Linked DNA regions of Homo sapiens: all the other regions are reported to be linked to region 4. The links are microRNA targets in miRTarBase. Many come from high-throughput screens and were not tested one by one. Region 4 holds a microRNA gene; each other region holds the end of a gene's coding sequence.
Evidence for each region. The annotated mature microRNA hsa-miR-202-5p reads UUCCUAUGCAUAUACUUCUUUG and lies in region 4 at 2,916-2,937, opposite strand. An mRNA with a match to its seed (bases 2 to 7 or 8) in the 3' UTR can be bound and repressed. Matches are read on the target gene's strand: a 7mer-m8 pairs with bases 2 to 8, a 7mer-A1 pairs with bases 2 to 7 and ends in A, and an 8mer does both.

Region 1: miRTarBase lists GDF7 as a target of hsa-miR-202-5p. Seed matches in the 3' UTR shown: 7mer-A1 at 964-970.
Region 2: miRTarBase lists TMEM248 as a target of hsa-miR-202-5p. Seed matches in the 3' UTR shown: 7mer-m8 at 2,884-2,890 and 7mer-A1 at 2,700-2,706.
Region 3: miRTarBase lists PHF5A as a target of hsa-miR-202-5p. The part of its 3' UTR that is shown has no 7-base or 8-base seed match.

The regions. Positions count from the first base shown.
Region 1 is chr2:20,671,194-20,675,447 of GRCh38, forward strand. It overlaps GDF7 (growth differentiation factor 7), which reads left to right. Exons shown (of 2, transcript NM_182828.4): 2 at 1-4,254. The coding sequence ends at 232. Among named protein-coding and RNA genes, the nearest start is that of GDF7, 6.2 kb to the left of the region's middle.
Region 2 is chr7:66,954,917-66,959,170 of GRCh38, reverse strand. It overlaps TMEM248 (transmembrane protein 248), which reads right to left. Exons shown (of 7, transcript NM_017994.5): 7 at 620-3,669. The coding sequence ends at 3,649. Among named protein-coding and RNA genes, the nearest start is that of TMEM248, 36 kb to the right of the region's middle.
Region 3 is chr22:41,456,885-41,461,138 of GRCh38, forward strand. PHF5A (PHD finger protein 5A) reads right to left here. Exons shown (of 4, transcript NM_032758.4): 4 at 2,833-3,603. The coding sequence ends at 3,514. Among named protein-coding and RNA genes, the nearest start is that of PHF5A, 9.7 kb to the right of the region's middle.
Region 4 is chr10:133,244,657-133,249,170 of GRCh38, forward strand. MIR202 (microRNA 202) reads right to left here and starts at 2,964; the gene lies at 2,855-2,964. MIR202HG (MIR202 host gene) reads right to left here and starts at 3,229. Exons shown (of 2, transcript NR_108079.1): 1 at 3,135-3,229; 2 at 1,823-2,394. RefSeq lists enhancers at 1-853, 185-1,037, 2,606-3,120, 3,637-4,151 and a silencer at 2,401-2,520.

The sequences.
Region 1 (4,254 bases), not on the chromosome of region 4:
GGCGTACCACTGCGAGGGCCTTTGCGACTTCCCTTTGCGTTCGCACCTCGAGCCCACCAACCATGCCATCATTCAGACGCTGCTCAACTCCATGGCACCAGACGCGGCGCCGGCCTCCTGCTGTGTGCCAGCGCGCCTCAGCCCCATCAGCATCCTCTACATCGACGCCGCCAACAACGTTGTCTACAAGCAATACGAGGACATGGTGGTGGAGGCCTGCGGCTGCAGGTAGCGCGAGGGCCGGGGAGGGGGCAGCCACGCGGCCGAGGATCCCCAGCTGATGAGCAGCAGCGGGCCACCCTGTCACCGAGCGTGGGTGCATGTCCGATGTGACCCAGCACCCTCTCAGAGGAGGGAGAGCACACGTTCACACTCACACACACTCGTGCAGTCACGCACACATTTACCGGGGACAGCATGTGAAAGCCTTGGGAAGAGATGACCTGCCGGTACCGAATGTCAAAGCCCTGTGTATTTTGCAAACAGATAACCATGGCGCCCACTGCCCCCATTTAGGGAGAGGAAGGTGTTTGTGCTGATGTTGCAGTTAGAGGCACGAAAATCAGGTAGCAACAACGGGTTAGGAAATTCGAAGTTCCAGAATGGGAGAACCAAAGGGGTACTCGAGCATGCTTTATCTCACCCCCTTTTGTTTCTGGCCCGATGTGGGGCATCGCTTCCCTGGGGGGCTGAGCGCCGCGTGGTGCACTCCGTGACCCACTGCAAGGCTGTAATGCCCTTCCCGAGGGTTTGTGTTGCATGGGGCCGTTTACCCTGGAACTGCTGCAAAAAGCATCTTTCTTTTTTTAACTTTTAAAATTTAACGTGCCCCTGCTTCATTTTTGAAAGGGAAGTTTTGTCTGAAAGTAGCTGTTGTGGAGCTTCCCAGATTTCTGCAAAGGTCGGTACCGCCACCCCCCCCCCCCCCCCCGCCTTTTTTTTTTTTTTTTTTAATCAATTCCAATAGGAAATGTTATGGAAAGTGGAAAGGATATTTTTCTTTTAAACGGCTGAGTCTGATCTAACAGGATATTGGGGTGGGATAGGATCTGCCAGGTTCGGAAGCTCCCCAGTTGGTCAGGGGGAGGTGGGAGCCATGCCTCGGGTGGCTCAGGAGGAAGTTAGTGCAATGGCCCGGAATGGGGAAGGTGGGGCTGGGGGAGGGGAGCTACTGCTTTTCCTAGAGACCTGCCAGGAGGTTTTCCTAAGAAGCCAGGGAAGAGGCTCTCAGGGCTTGAAAGGCAAGGAGGTGTCCTGGGGCCCACTCCAGCCGAGGACTCCGGCTTGCCGGCCAGGTAGGCGGAAGCTCCCGGGGCCGACTCGGGCTTGTGCTAGTTATCAAGTAAGTCGGCCTCCGCTTTTTACCTGCTTTCGCTGTGTTGTTGCTGTAGTTGTTGGCAGTGTGATAGTAACGGGAAGTGAAGCCACTCAAAAATGCTTTTGTCAGACTTCAACTCACAACCCAGACCTTTAGAGCAGGGGGAAGGTCTGCCCCTTCCCCTCATCGGCTCCCTGGCTTGGCTGCTGTGCCCTTGGAAGGGCAGGGCCTTGGTGTGGGGGAGCAGAGGTGGAATATCCCCCAGTTCCCTTATTTGGCCCCAAAGGGTCTTATTGATGGGAGGATTTTCTAGGCATGTAAAAGTGAGTTCGAACATTCAGACTTCACTGTTTGATTTGATTTGTTTATGCCTGGGAATCCTTTGTGGCTTTTTGTCAATAGGCTGGGAGAGGGAACCTAGTTGGACTCCAGCTGTCCGGGGTGGGGGCTTCTTAGAACAGCCCCGCAGCCCTCTCGGTGCATCTGTGTGATGTTGTGTAGGACTTTCCCCTTCAGAGTCCTGGGGAGCATTATTTCCACCCTGTGTTGGATGCAGGACAATTCATACACATTTTGATTCTCAGTGATTACACTCTTGAGAGAGAGAAGACAGACTTACGATTTAGATACAGCTAATTTACTTAGGGGCCCTACCTGAATCGGTTTTCATCCTGTAAAATTCTCCCAAAAGAAAAAAAAATACACGTGTAAATTACTCTTAAAATTAAGATTCCCCCCTTCCTCCTATTATGTGAATTTATATTCTGTGGCTGTATGAGTAGCTATAAATAACCAGAACATGAACAGTCTCTTCAGGTTAAAAATTTTAAAAATATCCAAAAGTGGCTGCTCTGGTACAATTCCATCTTATTTTAGTGACTGGGCAAAGATGGTCCCTAAATTTGTGGATTTTGCCAGAGATGCCTCACTCTCGTTTTTAAAATGAAGCTTGTCATAATGAAGAATTATATATTAAAAAAAGCACTGAAGTGTTGAAAGTTGTAGTATTAGAAGGTTTAGAAAGGAAGTTAATGACAAAGTGCAGTTAAATGTTATTTTGAGGAAGGTCTGGGGTATTTAATATCTTTGGATAAAAGCAAACATTTTGATACTTTTTTAGTGACTAGTAAAAACAATTTTTTGGGCAGAAATGTCTTGATTTAGCCTGGCCTTTTTATAGTAGGGAAAAAAACTGTCAATTTCCCCTCTTTCCTTCTGATGACCTCCTTCTAACGAGATGTGTTGTGAGTGGTGTGGGAAGTAGGTACCTTCCTGCATCTTGAGTTCAGGTGGCACCCGGTGGGAGGGGTGTTGTCCTTGGACAGTGACTGTTCCTTCCATGGCCCCATACCCTCAGTGTGCTCTTTGTTTACTGGATAAAAGGAATGCTTCCCAGATTTCCTCTGGAGCAGGTGAAGCCCCCAGGGGCCACTCTGCCCAGCCCTCTGGCATCTCAGTCCATTCACTAGGTGAATGCAGAGGATCCATTTCACTTGTAAAAATGACAACAAAGGGCCAACACATGTGGGGCAGACGGCTTTTTGCTGCTAAGATGTGGTTTAACTAGCATTGCCAAGGTGTGGAGAAAAGCGTTCTGCCAGCACAGTTGGTAGTAGCACCCTGAGCTCTCTGTCTTCTAGGTAGCGGGGGACAGGCCTGGGTGACTGGCATGAACCCAGCTTCTCTGTTGCAACCCCCAGCTGGAATCTCCAGTCACCATGGATGGGAGAACTGACAGGCAGGGAGAAAGCATGTCAAGACTGTGAGGAAAGGCTGTCCCCTCAACCCCAACCTGAGGTCACCAAAGTCTCCCTCCTAAAGTAAACAGAATTTTCCATTTTGTAGGGAGAATTGTGCACTACTAGTTGACATCACTTGAACCAGGATTTCCTGCTAGTGAGTAGGATTTGGCATCCCTACTTAGGGAGCTCGGGACAGGCCAGCTGGGGCCCAACGGGGGCTGGTGCTGGGTCTGTCAAACACAATGATAGCCTGGTCACTGCTGCTTGAAACCAGGGCTTTCGTATTAAGGAGGATCACCCACACTGGCAGGCGGGCATTTCCACTGATTCCCAAACACACTTGCCTTGTTGAATTCTGACTTTCCAAACAGCCGCACTGGGTCTTCCAGAGAAGGTGGCAGGCTTTGCTGTGTTAGCTTGGGGAAGCCAGGCTTGAGCTGTGCTCAGTCATTGTATCCATGCTCCCCTTCACCATACCCTCCTGGCAACGATATGAGGTGTGGATTGTGTGATAGAAGAATCCAGACTCCACGAAGCCAAGGACAGTCACTTCTCCCTGGCAGCTCTCATGGTGTCGGCAGGAGTGGGCGCCTCACCTTGGGTACTGAAGAGAGTACCGATAATCCCGTGGATGGAACAGGAGGGAGTGTAATTCAATCCCTACACATTGTATATGCTGTTGGCAATTTCATTTAAACTCACAGCAGAAAACAACCAGGATTTGTAGACTGATTTTCTTCTTAGAGCAGGGAGAAAAATTACGTTCTTTCCAAGAGCAGCTCGTGCACAGATAAGGTCAGACTTTTCCTGTGCTTGAATCTGGTCTCCAGGAAATCCAGTGGCAGGAAGAGAGTGTCCTGAGGCTGCCTCTGGGGGCACAGAATCACTGGGCCTCGCTGATTCTCATGAGAACCTGTCATCTCAGTGAGACAGGCCTCCCACTGGCCCTCAGTGGGCCATAGGCCAAGAGGTCTGAGTCAGATCGCGCAGTGAGCTGGAGGGAGCGAGGCTCTGAAAGCAGCAGTCTAGCAGAGGGAGTTTGGGCCTGCGCTTACCCCTCAGAAAGTGTCTGGATTGGGAAGGGAAGAGAGGAAGCTGCCGAGCGAACCCAGCAGCCAAACTTTGGGTGAGTGGAAAGTAACTAGATCCCTCTGGTGGATGGTATATTTGAGCTGCACCAGAGTCAGAGCCCAC
Region 2 (4,254 bases), not on the chromosome of region 4:
AGGTGGAGGCAGAAGGAACAAAGAGCTCATTGAGTAGCACCTTCCTCAACCATGAGACTGACCTTGCGACCCCAGCACCTGCTGGGGAGGGAAGGGAAGGGACACAGAGCCTCTGGCTGCTGGAAAGGGGAAGGATTCACATTAGTGAATACGATCTCCCTTTAGCTATGGAAACTGCAGAGGATGCACTGTCTTGGCAAAGGAGGTCTAGAGCGGGCCAGAGCTCTGCAACAGGAGACCGCAGAGCGGGCTGGGCACCTGCGGCTGGGCATACAGGCTTAGTGCATGCTGAGGGTTTATGTCACCGAGAGGGGTGTCTTGGAACTCCTATGTCTATTCAGTGCTCCCTGCTGGTATTTATTATTTACTTCCTTGGGCAGGATTAGGGTCAGGCCTGCAAGCACTTGTTGGTCTAGCAAGCTACAGGAGGTTTTGTACCCTCAGGGGGAAGATGCATGTGCTGGGTGAGGCTGCCTTCAGCAGAATAATGACCACCCCTCGTCCAAATGAGAAGTGACATTTCAAAGCAGCAGCTTGCAAAAAACCCTCAGCTGCTGATCGCACACGTTCTTCCCTTAGAAAACACCCATCCGGCTGGAGGAAGAAGACGCGGAGCAAATAAATTCAGATGTTTTATTCTGTAAAGCACATATGCACATACTTCAAACACGGAAAATTAATCTGGAAGTGAATGCCATAACAGATCAGCTACTGACCATCATGCAGCAAGAGGTGAAATGGACCCACTGGCCCTCAGGACCCCACAGTGCCTGCAGGAAGGGTGAAAACCCAGGAAGCTGAAGCCCTACACGCTGCCGAGGAAAACGCAACAGACATGGCAGGTGCCTCACGACAAGAAACACTTACAAATAGAATCAAAACTGATTCAAGTCATACAGTGAAAGGACAAAAGGAAAAAGGAAAGAGATCAATATGATCCGAAACAATCGTTTTAAGAGTAAGTTGCTGACCTTCTGCTGGCCCTCCAGTCCGAGATGCCTGAGGGTGAGCTGGTGCTCCTGCACGGGGCCGCCCTGAACAGCAAGCGCACTCCGTCTGTTGCACACTTCGAATCCTGAGGTCCACCAGCAAACTCTGGCTGAGCATTGAGCCTGGGAAGTGCCCAGATGGTGACAGGTCCCCTGGGCTTCCCGAGACTCGCTGGAGTCTCTTCAGGTCCTAGGCCTCTTCGTCCAGGCCCCCAGGCCTCCTCTCTCCCCTCAGCCTTCCTTTATAAACCTGATTGACTCTGCGTTTCTGTAAGATCTTTAAGAATTACTTGCTTAGGTGAATGTTGGATTTTAAAGTGTGTGTCCTGGCCTTGGGACAAGCCATCTGTCCAGGCATTTTTGGCACTTCCTTTCCTCACATCTAACAGTGTTGCCCCTCCCCTAGCTACAGATTCCAGCCACTCTCTGTCATTAAAACAAGGGTAACTAATATTAGCAACAAGCTGGATTGAACGAACCAGTGAAATTGGCTTTTTCACTGTTTTTCTCCTTTGATACCACTCTGCCAGCTATAAATCTATCCCTATAACTCTGCTTCATTGGGATTTTATTAATTCAATAGCAGCTTAATCTAAAATCTGATGGTCCTAATGATAATGACGTTTCTAGAGCCAAGCCACATGGCTCTTTCTCAATCTTGTCTCTTAAGGGTCTCAAAGTCTCTAAGGAGAAAACTAAATTAACAAGTTAGCCATGCATCGTGTAAGCAACTCGTATCATACATAGAAACTGGATAGACAAGTACGATTACTGCACTTGAAACATACTAAAAGGAAAAAGAAAAATACTAACATATCAAGTTACTATGGTGATTATTTTAACAATCTTCAATAAAAGCACGCAACTGTTTTCTATTCAAAAATGCCTGGGATAAAATGTTCTAGGCCAATGTATTTCAGAATGCAGGAACTAATCCTAATTTAAAACAGACTACAAACCTAGAGTTAAGGAAAGGAAGCACTCATGGTCATGTCCAATGTTTTCATTGCCCTTCTGTTATAACACTGCCTGGGAGAACACAGAAGTTATTAGTGACAATGAGCTATTAAGGCAAAAAGTTATTTTAAAAAAACAGTAAGAATACAAGAAAGGACTGGAAAAGATAATGTATGGTTTTGCTTAAATGAATAAGGATTAGAAAGAAAAAGAAACAGGGACTAGACAATCAAACAAAATGGTGTAAGAGGGCCGAGAGCAGTGGCTGACGCCTGGAATCCCAGGATTTTGGGAGGCCGAGGTGAGAGGATCATTTGAAGCTAGGAGTTCCAGACCAGCCTGGGCAACAGAGGGAGACTCTGTCTCTACAAAAAAATTTTAAAATTAGCCAGGCGCGCTGGCACACGCCTGTAGTCCCAGCTACTCAGGAGGCTAAAGTGGGAGGATTGCTTGAGCCCAGGAGTTGGAGGCTGCACTGAGCTAAGCTCCAGCCTGAGGGACAGAGCAAGACCCTGCCTCCCCCCTCCAAAAAAAAAGAAAAAGAAAAAAAGTTATAAGAAAAATGCTTTCAGTTTTCCCTGATAAATGGCAAATCAGAATTGCATTCCTTCAAATTTTGCAGGCATCGTTTTCGTAATTTTACTGATCTACTAGTTGCCATTTCCTTCTGAAGATATGTTAGTAGCATGAAAATAAAAGCAAAACAAAAGGGAGAAAATCCACCCACTCTTTAAAAAAGAAAGAAGAAATCCTTTCCTATTAGATAGAATCATTATTCTTTCTTTCCATACTGTCATCTGCATTCCAGAAAGCAGAAGAGCAAACAGTCACTCTAACTCTAGAGCCATTTACATTTTGAAGCCCTTTTGAGTGAAGAGGCGCTTTAACTTTGATAACAGAAGGGAGGGACAAGAGTGGACGACAAGACAGTAGAACCTCCTATGCCAGCTCCAACAAGACCAGGTTCCTGGTCATCCATGTGGAAAATGAAACTTAGATCTTTACCATGTATGTGACTTAAATATTTAACTTTTTAGTCAGGATAAAAGCACAAGTCTGTCCTAACTAGAGTAGTATTAAAATGTGACTATTTTATTTTTTCTTCATAAAGGAAAACAAAAAACAAAAAAACAAAAACAAAACAAAAAAAACTTAAGGTATGTTTCCTGCAAGCAAAATGGAGAAAAAGGTATTATTGTTGTTACTATGATTATTAAGCCACAAACACATAAAATCCACAAAATGGATTGGTGGCTTTGGAAATGCAATACCGTATCAAAGGTGCAGACTGTTTCAAATGTTCTCTACATATTGGGCTGAAACAAGAACCAAACCAAACTTCAACCCCATCAGCGACGCAATGCTCCTGTGACCTTGGTGAAAACATCGTCGTGACCAGCTAGATCCAGGAATCCTTCTCTAGAGACACGTGGAAACGTCCCATCAGGTAGGTCCTCAAGTCCAAGGTGGGGTTGAAGGGCTCTGGCTGTACCCAGGGCAAAGCACGTGCATTATTGGACCAATTTCTGAATAGATTTTTATAAATATGTACAAATCAGTTACAGGCACTTGAAATGTCTTTGGCTGGAATAACCCAACATCGCAAGATAATGTATTCACAGAGCATCCAGGCCCAGGCTGGGTTCAGCAGGCAAGGATTATGGTTCTCTCAGTCTCTCTCAAAAAACAAGGAGCTGTGGAATTAGGCTTCAGCCAAAGCCACCTGGAAGACAGCAAGCCAGGGAAACCAGTCAAAAAAGGGAAGCCTAGGTAACTCAGCCCCTACCCAAAGACCAGGATGCCACACTAATTGCACATATCAACCAGACAGTGAAGTTACTAAATCCCTAAAAAGAAAATCTCACCTAGGAAGAAATTACTAGAAATCTCAAAGTCTCCTGCAAGACGCGGCCCATCTGGAACCACTGTGCGGAGACAGAATTAACTGGTTTTTGTTTTTTTGAGACACGGTCTCGCTCTGTTGTCCAGGCTGGAGTGCAGTGGTGCAATCGTAGGTTACTGCAGCTTCCAACTTCTGGGCTCAAGCAATTCTCCTTCCTCAACCTCCCCAGTAGCTGGGAATACAGGCATGCACCATTACATCTGGCTAATTTTTTAACTGTTAGTAGAGAAGGGTTCTCACTATGTTGCCCAGGCTGGTCTTGAACTCGTGGGCTCAAGTGATCCTTCTGCCTCAGCCTCCTAAAAGTCCTGGGATTACAGGTCCACCTAGCTGAGGTAACTGTCTTTAAACCTTGATAAGCATTCTGTTAGAAGACTTCTTATGCTGATGGAACTACAGAGGAGG
Region 3 (4,254 bases), not on the chromosome of region 4:
CAGGAGTTCAAGACCAGCCTGGCTAATATGGTGAAACCCTGTCACTAATAAAATTACAAAAATTAACCAGGCATGGTGGTGAACACAAAAATTAGCTGGGCATGGTGGCACGTGCCTGTAGTTCCAGCTACTCAAGAGGCTGAGGCAGGGGAATTGCTTGAACCTGGGAGGTGGAGGTTGCAGTGAGCTGAGATCATGCCACTGCACTCCAGCATGGGTGACAGAGACGCCGGCTCAAAAAAAAAAAAAAAAAAAAAAAAGTGAAAGGATGAATCCCCTCATGCGGGCAGAGCCTTCATGACCCAATCATTTCTTGAAGGTCCCACTTCTGAATACTGCCACATTGGGAATCAAGTTTCAACATGAGTTTTAGAGGGGACAAACATTCAAACCATAGCAATCACCTCACTGATGCATTAGAATTGCTCAGAGCTCCCTACACACATCGCCCTAGGCTGGGGGTGGTGGCTCATGCCTATTATCCTAACTTTGGAAGCCAAGGCAGGCAGATCGCTTGACCTCAGGAGTTCAAGACCAGTCTGGCCAATATGGTGAAACCCTGTCTCTACAAAAAAAAAAAAAAAAAAAAAAAAAAAAAAAAAAAAAAAGCTGGGCATGCTGGTTCACACCTCCCAGCTACTCAGGAGGCTGAGTTGGGAGGATTGTTTGAGCCCAGGGGGTCGAGGCTGCAATGAGCCGTGTTCATGACACTGCACTCCAGGTTGGGGGACAAAGTGAGACCATATCCGAATCAATACATATCACCCTGTTCACGACTGTCTTTGCTCAAGTTGATGCCCCCCCCAACAAATGCCCTTATTTGCCTACTGCACCCTTTGCCTGTAGGTTCTGACATATCAAAGTCCAGTTTATTATCCAGTTTCCTTGACTTCAAGCATTCATTCAATACTGAACACCTACCTGCTACCTACTGGGCAAAACAAACTTGCTTCCTGCTCTTGTAGACACGGTCGTAGGTTACTTTCACTAATCACCAAATGCTTTAAGAAAACACATAGGGTTGGGTGTGGTGGCTCACACCTGTATTCACAGCACTTTGGGAGGCTGAGGCAGGAGGGTAACTTGAATCCAGGAGCTTGAGACCAGTCTGGGCAACACAGCGAGACCTTGTCTCTATAAAAAATACAAAAAACAGGCCAGGCTTGGTGGCTCACGCCTGTAATCCCAGTACTTTGGGAGGCCAAGGTGGGCGGATCACGAGGTCAGTTCAAGACCAGCCTGGCCAACACAGTGAAACCCCATCTCTACTAAAAATACAAAAAATTAGCTGGGTGTGGTGGCGTGCATCTGTAATCCCAGCTACTAGGGAGGCTGAGGCAGGAGAATCACTTGAATCTGGGAGGTGGAGGTTGCAGTGAGCGGAGATTGCGCCACTGCACTCCAGCCAGGGCAACAGTGCAAAATTCCATCTCGAAAACAAAAACAAAAAACTAGCTGGGCAGGGTGGTGCATGCCTGTAGTCCCAGCTATTCCAGAGCCTGAGGTGGGAGGATTGCTGAGTCTGGGAAGTAGAGGTTGCAGTGAGCTGAGATCGTGCCACTGCACTCCAGCCTGGGTGACAGAGATGCCGTCTCAAAACCAACCAACCAAACCAAAAAACCACATAGGATGCTAAGTGGGAGTACAAGGGGAACTTAGATTAAGGGTCCGGAGAGGCATCTTTGAGGAAATATTTGGCTAAGGTCAGAAGGGAGTAGGGGTTAGCTGAGTAAAAGGGAGGGGGGCACAAGCATTCTAGAGGGATCAACATGTTAAAAATAAACCCAAAGCAGAAGCCAAAAGGAAAGCAGCAGTTGTGGAACTGAAAAGGAGCCTATGGCTGCAGTGCAGAGAAAGGGGTGGCCAAAAGCGCCCGGAAAGTGCTGTAGTCCTATGGCCATGGCCTTCCCCTGCCTTCCTGTGGTACCTCCAAGCTAGGCCTAGAACCCTTCCTTTGTGCATCCTCTGGGTTATACTGGAACCTTTTTTTGTGTGTGTGTGAGATGGAGTTTCACTCTTGCTGCCCAGGCTGGAGTGCAATGGCACGATCTCGGCTCACTGCAACCTCTGCCTCCTAGGTTCAAGCAATTCTCCTGTCTCAGCGTCCCGAGTAGCTGGGACTACAGGCGCACAGTGCCACCATGCCTGGTTAATTTTTGTATTTTTAGCAGTGACGGAGTTTTGCCATGTTGGCCAGCCTGATCTCGAACTCCTGGGCTCAAGTGATCCGCCTGCCTTGGCCTCCCAAAGTGCTAGGATTACAGGTGTGAGCCACCGCGCCCAGCCCATCTTTTTTTTTTTTTTTTGAGGCAGTCTTGCTCTGTCACCCAGGCTGGTGTGCAGTGGCGGGATCACTGTTCACTGCAGCCTCAATCTCCAAGGCTCAAGGGATCCTCCCATCTCAGCCTTCTGAGTAGCTGGGACTAAACTACAGGTGCATGCCACTATACCTGACTAGTTTTCATATTTTTCATAGAGATGGGTTTTTGCCATGTTGCCCAGGCCGGTCTTGAACTCCTGGGCTCAAGATCCGCCTGCCTGAGCCTCCCAAAGTGCTGGGATTACAGGCATGGGCTACTGTGCCCAGCCTCCACCATAACTGGAAGCTATCTCTTCAGTTCAAAATTAAAGTTGGACAGGAAGGAAAAAATAGTACGTTTCTAAAGATGACTTTGATCTATCTATAATGAAAGGTATGGGTGGTTTTGAATTCCTTCCAGTGGTAATAAGAGGACAAAGTACTTAACCAATCCCACTACCTCTGTTTTGAATCACAAATTCCTGGGTGACTAAAATAAATTCCTAGAGTTAAAGTTAAATGGGGAAGGTGACTACCAGAAAATAAACACCAACTTTATTAATATAATAGCAACAGAAAGAGTTTCCAATTTCTCAAAAGGAAAATAATATGAGACTAGTGGGCTATGATGATGCCTGTGAATAGCCAGCTACTGTACCCCACTGTAGCTGGACAAGTGTTAAACAAGTAAATGCCTTTCAAGAGGGCAGAGCCCTGCCCCCCCACCCCCCCCCCAAAAAAAACGGGAAATGCCTACATTTCTTGTTCTGATAGCTTCCCACCACACACCAAAGGTTCCTCAAGGACAGCTGCCACCAGAGCTGCTGCAAGAACATGTTTTTCACTGGGCGTCGCTTCACAGTCAGTTCCTCAAGCAGAAGACTAAAATATTATTTCTTTTTAGAAGATCTTGGTTGAGGGAGAACATACCAATATGGAGAACAGATCTTTGCTTCTCGAATTCAAGAAAAACCATTAACTAATCTATCAAGTTTTCTCCGATATGGTGTGCCAGAGTGCTCTGTGAAGAATCCTTTTCCATCCCTACCACGTGTCTGGGTGAAGGGAGAGGAGGGGGTGGCAAGCTGCCAGTACACTAGCAGGCACTCCTGGTGATGCTCTGGGCTCTGCTCCCTTTCTGCTGGTAGTAGTAGGCATGTTTTCTGGCAGCTGCAGCAGACTGATGTTGGGGGGAGGAAGGGGCCACCCACCAATCACCTCTTCTTGAAGCCGTATTTTTTGCGTTCATAGAAGAGGTCTGTCTTAGAGCTCCCCAGATTGACAATCTTTGGGCAGCCATCTCTCTGGAAAACAGAACAGAGAAGTTGTTAAGTCTTTGAGCCTGAACCAAGAGTGACTTAAGATAAAAAATTTAAGCCCAGTGTGGTAGCATGTGCCTTTAGTCCCAGCTACTACTCGAAGGCCGAGGCAGGAGGATTGCTGAAGCCCAGGAGTTCGAGACTAGTGGGCTATGATGATGCCTGTGAATAGCCAGCTACTGTACCCCACTGTAGGCAACATAGCGAGACCCCCATCTCTTGAAAAAAAAAAAATTGGTCACAGAGTTCAAATTCTCATCTTAGTATTTGAAGAACTCAATAAATGGGTTTGTAAATGTGTCCAAACACCAGTTATCTCCTTAATTGGGAGGCCCAGATCAGCACTGTTTCTTCCCTATCTCTTAGCACTTATGAAAGATCATTTATAGGCCGGGCACGGTGGCTCATGCCTGTAATCCCAGCACTTTGGGAGGCCGAGGCAGGTGGATCACCTGAGGTCAGAAGTTCGAGACCAGCCTGGCCAACATGGTAAAACCCCGTCTCTACTAAAAATACAAAAATTAGCCAGACGTGGTGGTGCGTGCCTGTAGTCCCAGCTACTCAGGAGGCTGAGGCAGGAGAATCGTTTGAACCCAGGAGGCGGAGGTAGCAGTGAGCTGAGATCACGCCACAGCA
Region 4 (4,514 bases):
CAGTGGGCCAAGATCGTGCCAGTGCATTCCAGCCTGTGCAACAGAGCAAGACACCAACTCAAAAAAAAAAAAAAAAAGGTAAGTACCAGAAGCGCTGGCCCTCCCCCCATTGCCTCTGCAGCCTGGCTGGGAGGCTCTGCCACCCCCACCTCAGAAAGGTTCCGTTCATGCCCCAGAGTGGCGGTCAGCTTCTCAGGGGACTCCTGGGGCTCCTGAGTACTCCCCAAGGCAGGGTCTCAGAGGGCTTCCTCTTGTTCCCAGGCCAGGAGGACCCTCATTCCCAGCCTGGCTGTCCACAGAAGCCACAGTGAGCCACTCCCCCATGGTGCCCCTCAGCCCCCACCTACCATTCACAGGACAACGGCCTCAGGACCGGGGGGCTGTGGCCAGGAGGCCTCCGTTTCTGGGACGCCTTCCAGCCCCGTCCTGGCCCCTGTGCTCCTTCCAATGCCCTCAGCAGGGTCTCAGTGGCTGGACCTGATACGTGGGCATGTCTTGGCAAGCCTGGACAGCCACCTTGGTGGGGTCTTGGCAGGAGCCCTGCCCATCTTCCTGGGGGAATTCATCCCTCTCCCTGCCCAGCAAGCCGCCCACCCTGCAGTACAGGTGAGGGCACACGGCCCAGCTCACCCAGCCCAGATCCCAGGGAGGGCATAGCCCTCAGAACCACAGCTCTTCTGGGGAAATGGGCACCATACTGGAGAGTGGGGCCTCTCCTTTCACAGCCCAGCAGGTGCTGTTAATTACACCGCAGCCTTGCAGGGACAGAGCTGGGCAGGGTACGAGCGCAGAGTGAGGCGGAGGGACGGAGCCAGGCGGGGTACGAGCGCAGAGTGAGGCAGAGCCTTTGGCTCCCTGGATCCAGCCGTGCCTGCATCCCCATTCTGCCGACACTGTCTGGAGTAACAGCTGCTGCTGCATGTCCGCACAGCACAGCGAGGTAATACCTGCTTTATCTGTGCAGCTTTAAAGCCCTATGTTCAGGTGTCCTGTGGAGAGTGACTCGAAGGCCTGCAAGAGACTCCCCAGCAGGGCCGACCTCCACCGTTCCCTAGGGGGCAGGGGGAGCAGCCGAGCTCGTTGGGGTGGGGGGCGTGGCTGCCCTTCCACATGTGGCCTGCGGCCCCCCGGCCGGAAGCACCCCACCCCTCTGCCTGCTGCCTGATCTTTCCCCTCGGACACCCCAGCTGCGGGCTGTGAGGGAGGTGGGAGGTGACTATCAGATGAGATTAGTGCTAGGCTTGGAGAGGAGGCGCAGCCTGGGGAGGCAGCCCCTGATAACCGGCCTGGGGGCCTCTCAGCCAGCTCATTGCTCCATTTGCTGGGCTCATTGGTGATAAAGGCTGTGGCCTTCAAAGACCTGGGCGTGGCCCTGCCGGCTGACGAGGACTCTGGCTGAAGGGTGGGGCCTCCCCGACTCCCGTTCAGGCCTCCTTTTAAGACAGCAGCCGACTGTCATTCTTTAAACAGGGCTGATGAGGGACCCCCTGTCCATTTTTCTTCAGTGGGAAGTCAAGACCGCAGTCCCACCCTGGCCATTGTGGAGGCCTGGAAGCTGCGGGGCCCCCGCCCAGGACAGACCAGTGCCCCCCACCCTCACAAGCCGTCCCTCTGGGCTCTCCCAACACTGCCGGCCGGTCCCAGGCTCTGGTCATCAGAAGGGTGGCCCCAGACCGGTGCCCAGCCCAGGCCCCCAACCGAGGCCCCAGGAGCCGTTTCATCCCCCCGTGTTTATGCATTTTTAACTAAGTTCCCCCAAGTCCACACGTGACTAATGTGACGTCCAACCACCGTGAACGAGAGGAGACCAGCACGACAGAGCTGCTTTGTCAAAATTTGTATTTATTGTCAAAACTTTACCACATCTCACACATTTAAATGAAATTAGCTCTACTGAAATTTCTGACCAGAAAATCAACTCATACCCATGATTACAAAAGTAATAAAGGTGTTAAGAAGCAACAGCCAGCCGGGCGCTGTGGCTCACGCCTGTAATCCCAGCACTTTGGGAGGCCGAGTGAGGTGGATCATGAGGTCAGGAGTTCAAGACCAGCCTAACAAGGTGAAACCCTATCTCTACTAAAAATAAAAAAATTAGCCGGGTATGGTGGCAGGCGCCTGTCGTTTCAGCTACTTGGGAGGCTGAGACAGGAAAGTCGCTTAAACCCGGGAGACAGAGGTTGTAGTGAGCCGAGATCGCGCCACTGCACTCCAGCCTGGGTGACAGAACGAGACTCCATCTCAAAAAAAAAAAAAAAAAAAAAAAGCAGCAGCAGCAAAAGTGCACAGACCCAGCGTGCACGCGTCTCCGCCACGCCTCACTCCCGTCTGCGCCTGGATCCACCGCCACCCGCTTGTATAAAAAGTGGGCCCCACACGGTGCAGCTTCGTAGTCTGCAAAGAAAATGTCCAAAGAATGAGTTGTGGATCCTCCCAGCCAGAGCCCAGATCCCAGGCACCCCGCCCCACTTCCCCCGACCACCAGGCGGCCCCAGAGCCCAGGTTGTCCCTCCCGCCACCTCCTGTAATGGGTCCACCCCCAACTCCGGTCAGACTGGTCACAGAGCACCGCCCAGCTCCAGCCCTCCTCTCTGCATCCTGGGTCCCAGCTCAGGGGCTGCAGAGATCAACCCAGGGCAGAGGCCTGGACCACGTCCTCCCCAGACACTTCCAGAACCCACACAAAAGCACACATCCACGTTTCCCTTGTTTTAGAATATTTGGCCCCTTTCTGCCCCAAGGATGTGGGGGTCAAAGCCCCGGGGCTCCCGGCCGAGGAGAAAGGAAGCAGGTGGAGTCCCAAGTCAGGAGGCAGGTGCTGCTGGAGCAGGTGCAGGTGCACTGGTGCAGGTGCCGCTGGGGAGGACCCGACCGCCCCGTTTTCCCATGCCCTATACCTCTTTAGGCCAGATCCTCAAAGAAGTATATGCATAGGAAAAAGGAACGGCGGGCGGCTCTGAGGCGGGCCGGCTCTTCAGCACTGGGAGGTGGCTGTCCTGGGGGAGGGTCCCGTGCCGGGCAGCAGGGAGAAGTCGGGACTGAGGCCTGGTGGGCACGGAGATCCTGTGGGAGTGAGGAGGGCAGAGCCAAGCCAGGGCCGAGTTCCCAGAGGCAGGCCTTGGGCCTCGTCTTACCTGTGGTCCAGCCTCCTGGGCCGCTGGCGCTGGGTAGCCCGTGAGCCTCGTGAGCCTGGGAGGAGCGGTGGAGAACTCTCTGAGCCGGGAGTTCTGCTGCTGCCGAGCGAGCTCCACATTTATGCGCAGGGGAGACCTTGGCCGCCGCTGTCACATGCAACCAGAGGGCTGCTCTGTGCCAAGGACCCCGTCGCACCCCCGCACCTGCCAGATTGGGGCACAAAGACCTGCTGTGAGAAGAGTGCTGAGCCAGGGCCCGCCGGGCGGGCGGGCGGCGAGGGCTGTGGGCCGGGGGCTGCTGGCCCGGGAGCTGGGATGGGGCCAGCCTGTCCCCCCGCCTCCTCCAACCCTTATCTCCCCACGCGCTTCTGCTTGCGTCAGGGGCCCGGAAAGCACACGTGAGCAAGAATCGCTTGTCCAGGGAAGGGGCCGACTCTCCTTCCTGGGCCTGCCCAGCTCAGCAATAAGCAGCACCTTGGGCTGCACCCGCAGCCTCCTGGCTCACAGGGACTCTCAGAACCCCCAGCCAGCGTGTCCAACACTGTCCTGGCCACTGGGAACCAGACCCCACCCCCAGGGTAGGTGGCCCTGCTTGGCCTGGGGCGGCCTCCACAGCTGGGGCTCCCTGAGGATTCACGGCATCAGGCGGACACTGGTCCAGTGAGGCCCAGAGCCTTCCCCGGGCCACAGAGCCCGCGAGCACGTGGAGAGGGGCCACGCTCTGCAGCCTTGGGGGCAAGAGTGCAGGGTCGGAGGGAGAGGGCCCCTCAGGGACAGCTGGCCAGACCCACAGCTGCCCACACAGAGCGAGACCACACAGGCAGGCAGACACCCTCTCCTAGGGCCAGGGAGCCCCCGGCCGAAGGGCCCAGGCAGGCAGCAGAACTCCTGCAGGTCTGGGGCTGTCCCTGTGTCCCAGGCTCAGGACACAAGGAAGAGGCCCAGAGGAGGCCAGGGCACAGGGCTTCCACAGGTGGCCAGGGACAGGGCTTCTGAACCCCAGCCAGCGGTCTCTCCCCAGGACGTAGGCAAGTGGAGGCTGGTGAAGGAACAAGGCTGAGGCCTCAGAGGCCTCTTCAGTGACCATGTCCTCGGGGAGACTCAACGTCGCTAGGCAGGCCCGTGCGGGCGCCTGGCCCCAGCACCTGTGATCTGTAGGGCCAGAGTCTCAGGACTGACCCGACGCAGCACCCACATGCGGCAGGGACACACAGAGACCCCCATAGACACACGTAGACACATATAGACTCACATAGACACACACAGAGACACACACAGACACACATAGACACACACAGAGACACAGACATGTAGACAGAGACACACTCAGACATGTAGACACACAGAGACACAGATGTACACAGAGACACACACAGACAC